Regions from separate parts of the Homo sapiens genome. Here region 2 is linked to region 1. The links come from fine-mapping of genetic effects on gene expression. A gene starts in region 1. The other region holds a variant in brackets. All regions are shown on one strand. Distances are between the middles of the regions. Region 1 holds the start of UBL3 (ubiquitin like 3). Region 2 has its middle 3.6 kb from the start of LINC00572.

Region 1 (2,911 bases):
AAATCTTCGCCCCACGCCTGCCGTCTTTCCGATTAAATAAGATTGGAAACCACAATTAAATCAGTGTCATAACTTATCCGTCACTTACCATATCCGCCGGGACATTACTGGACATCTTGCCGTTTGATATACACCCAGATGTTTACGAAAAAAACAAACAAAGAAAAAAGAGCAGAAGTCTTCACGTTACAGAAATAAACCACGATTTTGACTGGTTCGTGATGTGCTTTCTCCCCCAAAAATAAAGTTATTTTGGAGCCAAAGTGCCGGTCAGGCCGAGGTTCTGGTTCGAAGAGGAACAATCCCCAGGAGCTGTGTGGCCGGAGCAGGAGGAAACTCCCGGGACAGCAGAGGCAGCCCCCGTCGTCGTCGTCGTCGTCAACAGCAGCAGCAGCCCCAGGACCGGCCGCGCCAGGTGGACCGAGCCGAGTGACACACGGACATGGAGAGGGGTGGGAGGGGGTTAAATGCGCCTTCCTCCTTTCCCAGCCCCGGCAATGATTCACACTTGCTCCCGAGTCAAGTCCTCATTAAGCAGGAGAAAAATGCCCCAGCGTGGATGTACACAGATAACTATGTAGCTACACATCGACGCGTGAGCCTTGAGTGGCGGCCGAGCGGTGGCCGGACGCTGGCCGCGGACCCTGCAGAGCCGCTGTCGGAGCGCCCGCGCGGACAGCGCGGGGAAACGGCTCAACTCGCGCCGCGGGGGCGAAGAGCCGGGCCGCGGAAACCCGCGCTCAAGGGCATTTAACTAGTTGGAAGCCAAAGCGAAAGACCGGAGCGGGGGACCGACAGCGCGGGGGTGCTCGGGGCCGGCCGGGACACTCCACAGCCCCTCTGGGCTCAGGCCGCGGGCGCCTCCGGACAGCAGCTGGGGTCGGGGCGCATCGTCTCCGGCTCCTCGCCACTCCTCTTCTGCCTCCGCCTTCCCCGCCGCCGCCTCCCCGGTCTCCGCCTTCCCTTCCCCTCCCCTCCCCGGCCTCGCGAGCTCCGGGCGACGCCGACTTCGGCTGGTCCCCGGAAGAGGCCGGGTCCTCCTTCTCCTCAGCCCGGGAATGGTTTCCTCTCAGAGCTTTGTTTCTCCTCCTCCTCCTTCACTTTTCAGTCCCACACGCCGCGGCCGCCTCCTGTCATCGCCTCTCAAACCAACATGGCGGCAGCGGCGGCGGCGGCGGCTGCCTGAGTGCGACTAAGGGAAACGGGGAGAGCACGGGCCCCCCCTCGCAGCAGCCGCCGCCCCCGTCCTCGTCCTCCCTCCGCGGACACCAAGTGCGTCACCACGGAGACCATTCCCTCGAGCATCACGGGAAGTGTAGTCTACGAGGGTGGGGGGGGGAGGGAGCCGCCGAACGCCTCCTCACCCAGCTCCGAAGCCACGCCCCCCATAGCAACAGTTGCGAGGAAAGGAAAGCTCCCTTTCCCTTGCTTTGGACAAGCTGCTGCCCAGGAGTTAAGTGATACCTGCTACCAGGAGTGCTGTGATCATGAGAATTGTTGGGAGAAAATAATTCTGCATAGAGAAATTCCCTTATGCACGATATGCACACAGAGCTAAAATATGCTGTACCTCCAAGCAGAATCATTCATTTTAATTACAGCACATTCTCCACATCCTGCAATCTCAATGCATTTTGTAGAGTGATTTCATCTAGGTCTCCTCAACATTACATTTTGAAGAACAAAAGCAATCATTGATTTCCAATAAGGTCACATAAGTTCAACAGGAACAAGGATCTCATTAAGCAGTGAGAATATTTGAACATGTGTTTCCTTGAAGACCCAGGGCAATAAAGCTACAATCTACTTAACTGAAATTACCAAAACTGTATTACATACAACAGTGTTATTATATCAAATCTGTATCAGGAAATAGCTACTACAAACTTCATGGGGATTCACCAGTTTACCCATCTGGACCCTAAATTCTATTCTATGTAACTCATAATGTAATTGAAAACCTATATGCCTTGCAGTGATTAGCAAATAGGAGAAAATAATGCCATTGTTGAGACACCATTCAGATGGACATTTGTGATTTCTGCATTTTGTTCCTAAATCTGAGGTCAACATCTGAATCCCTATTCATATCTCTTAGTCCTTTGACAGAGTACTTTAGAAAGGGCAGTCTCAATATGATGCCTATATATAAATGCCAATGAATTTAGAGTCTGAAAGCCACCTCTCCAACCTACAGCTGTGTGACCTCATCTGTAAAATGGTCTTGCCTACCTTCCGGGGTAAAGTAGGGGTAGTTATGAGGATGAGTTCATGCATGGGAAATAAATCACTTTGTAAATAATAATGCATCATTTGATATGAAATGTCACTACTCATTCTCTCATTCAGCAAACAAATGTGCCAGGCACTCTGCTAGGCACTAGGAGTTTAAAAATGAGTCACTGTAGCGAACAGCAGCATCATGTGGCAGAAATGCCAAGGTCTTGGGTTGGCAATGGGGGTTATTACATCCTTGTCTATAGGGCTGTTGAAAAGAGGCAGAATCCAGTCACTGTCCTCAGGGAGCTCATTGTCTAGAAGCCTACGTGATTCCCCACAGCAATCTCTCCAGTTGGGTTTCTCATCAGTTGGAAACCCACAGGACATTTAGAGTACCTGCCTCTTGAGTAGCCTGGGTGGAGAAATTCCAAACACTCCTAAGGGCCTATATCACCCTGAGGAAGATAGATCAAATTCTCCGAAAAACCAAAGGCCAGAAGAGAAGAGAGGCCCAAATCTCACTGTGATTAGGCTTCAGGACTTTGTCTAGATATTTCCAAGTCCATAGTTACGTGATTTTCCATGGCCTTTGTTACTTGGTTGCTCATTTGCAATGTTTAGCAACCACAGAGTCCCCCTACCCCTACACCAGCCCCCCAGGAAATAAGGGCAGGTGAAAATACTTCAATTG
Region 2 (2,911 bases), 79 kb after region 1:
CAGGTGTGGTGGCAGGTTCCTGTAATCCCAGCTACTTGGGAGGCTGAGGCAGGAGACTTGCTTGAACCCGGGAGGTGGAGGTTGCAGTGAGCCGAGATTGCACCATTGCACTCCAGTCTGGGCAACAGAGCAAAAAAAAAATTTGTCTCAAAAAAAAAAAAAAAGAAAGAAAGAAAAGAAAAAGAAATGGCTATTTAAAAAATGTGAAAGTTGTTTTTGTTTTTGTTTTTTTGTTTGTTTTGTTTTGTTTTGTTTTCACTTGAGATAACCAGAAACCTTGTTAAACCTGAGAGGCTGATTTTGTCTGGGATACAAAGATTAGAAAGCATTAGACCAGGAAGGACTTCATTTGAACCTGCCTGAAGACCCATTTCAGTTCTGTTAACCAGAACTGTGCATTCTTCAACCAGAAGCACAATGGGAAATGGGGAGGAGGGAGGAAGGGAGCCTGGACGGAGGGAAGAGACCTACCTGCCTTAGCCTGACTTCCCTAGAAAGCAGAGCCTGAGGCAAAGTATGTGTGCTATTTCTAGATTGGGGAGTGCCTTCCTAAGGACAGAAGAGTGAGGGAAGAGGGGAGCAAGGCAGAAAAAGAGGGAGAGCCAATAATGGGTAACTGAGCTCGCTACTGCTGGATTTTCAGCTCAATCGATGATGCAATCTTGCAGGTCCATCTTCTGACAGGCCATGTGAATGGCTGCATCTCAGGACAGCCCTTCTGTGGGAAAAGAGGGATACAGTTTAGCCATTTGCTGCATTCGTCTATGGGTCAAAGGTTGGCACGGCAGATGGTGATGCCCCTTGCTTCTGGATGGACACAGGTAGACACTATGTGGTCCGTGGATGTCTCACGACAGAGCTCAACAGAAAAGCCCCAGGCTGGAGGCGAGGCACTAAGCAGTTGCTCATGCATGCCTAGGATGGGAGGCAGTTTCAAGCTCCTGAGAAGTTGGTCACAGCCCGTGCAGAGTTGCTCAGCACGCAGCAGCTGGAATAGAAAAAGGGGCCAAAGACCTTAGAGATGTGAAACCCAGAGAATCTGAGGCATGGTACAAACCCCTACCTAGATTTCTGTTGGAAACACAGCCTTTTCTGTCTTTGAGTATGCTCGATACTGGGGATTGGGCATCTGCTGATGTCCATACATGGTAGACTGCTTGCTGTTTCTCCAGTATTCTTTTTCCTCTTCTTAGTAATAGAGCCCCTAGGTTTTAACTGTGCACTTGACTTCACAGAATAAAGACTGACTATACATTTTCTAGCCTCCTTTGCCAATTGGTGTAACCATGTGACCTAGTTCTGACCAGCGAGATGCAAGTGGAACTGAT[G/A]TATGCAACTTCTGACATGTCCTTAAATGGAAGGGACATGCTCGTCTTTGTCCCCCTCTTCATTCAGGTAGCTGGAATTCAGATGTAATGGTTGGCACTCCAGTGGCAATTGTGGACCATGAGGTGACCTTGGGAATGGAAGCTGCATGTGGTAAGGCAAAAGTCACAAGGAGCCTGAGTCCCTGTCACTACAGAGTCACCAAACCAACCCTGAACTGCTTACTTCCAGACTTTTTACAGTGGAGAGACCTAAATTTTTGCTTTACTTAAGCGACTGCTATTTTGGGTTTCCTATTCCTTTGGCTGAACTTTTGTTGTTGTTGTTGTTGAGACAGAGCCTCTATCACCCAGGCTGGAGTGCAGCAAGTATAGTCACAACTCACTGCAGCGTTGACCTCCTGGGCTCAGGTGTTCTCCCACCTCAGCCTCCCAGGTAGCTGGGACCACAGGTGTGCACCACCACACCTGGCTAATTTTTTTGCATTTATTGTAGAGATGGGGTTTCACCATGCTGCCCAGGCTGGTCTCAAACTCCTGGGCTCAAGCAATCTGCTCACCTCAGCCTCCCAAAGTACTGGGATTACAGGCATGAGCCACCACACCCAGCCCCTTTGGCTGAACTTAATTCTAAATGATACAGCATTCAAAGCAGGGAGGATATAAAGGGAAGAGGGGCATAAGTATCCACTTTTAAGAATGACTCGGCTGGGCACGGCAGCTCACGCCTGTAATCCTAGCACTCTGGGAGGCCGAGGCAGGTGGATCATCAGGTCAGGAGGTCAAGACCATCCTGGCTAACACGGTGAAACCCCGTCTCTACTAAAAAATACGAAAAATTAGCCAGGCGTGGTGGCGGGCACCTGTAGTCCCAGCTACTCAGGAGGCTGAGGCAGGAGAATGGTGTGAACCTGGGAGGCGGAGCTTGTAGTGGGCCGAGATCGCGCCACTGCACACCAGCCTGGGCGATAAAGTGAGACTCCGTCTCAAAAAAAAAAAAAAAAAAGACTCTCCTTTGTCTGTGTCCCACTACCCCTACCTTCTCATAGCACCTTTGACTACCCTGATGATAGTTAACACGGGCATACCTCACACATATTGTGAGTCCTGTGCCAGACCACTGCAATAAAGCAAAATCACAATAAAGTGAGTTGCACATTGTTTTGGCTTCCCAGTGCATACAAAAGCTATGGTTAAAGTATACTCTAGTCTGTGCAATAGCATTATGTCTATGAAAACAATGTACATACCTTAATTAAAATACTTTGTTGCTAAAAAAAAATGCGAACAATCATCTGAACCTTCAGCAAGTAGTCATCTTTTTGCTGGTAGAGGATACTTCTCAATGTTATGGCTGCTGACTGATCCGGGTGATGGTGGCTGAAGGTTGGGGTGACTGTGGCAATTTCTTAAAATAAGAAAACAGTGAAGTTTGTGGCACCAGTTGACTCTTCCTTTCATGAAGATTTCTCTGTGGTATACAGTGCTGTTTGATAGCATTTTACCCACATTTTACCCTTTTGTCAACTAAGTTTTTGGAGTAAATACTTTGTTGTCGTTTCAACGATGTTCACAGCACCTTAAGA

Evidence for each region.
Region 2: its variant is fine-mapped to the expression of UBL3 in lung (TOPMed, PIP 0.95).

The regions. Positions count from the first base shown.
Region 1 is chr13:29,849,424-29,852,334 of GRCh38, forward strand. UBL3 (ubiquitin like 3) reads right to left here and starts at 1,194. Exons shown (of 5, transcript NM_007106.4): 1 at 89-1,194. The coding sequence starts at 115. RefSeq lists enhancers at 300-369, 1,040-1,109 and silencers at 670-969, 1,240-1,349.
Region 2 is chr13:29,928,773-29,931,683 of GRCh38, forward strand. No RefSeq gene overlaps it. Among named protein-coding and RNA genes, the nearest start is that of LINC00572, 3.6 kb to the left of the region's middle. The variant G/A (reference allele first, on the strand shown) is at 1,329.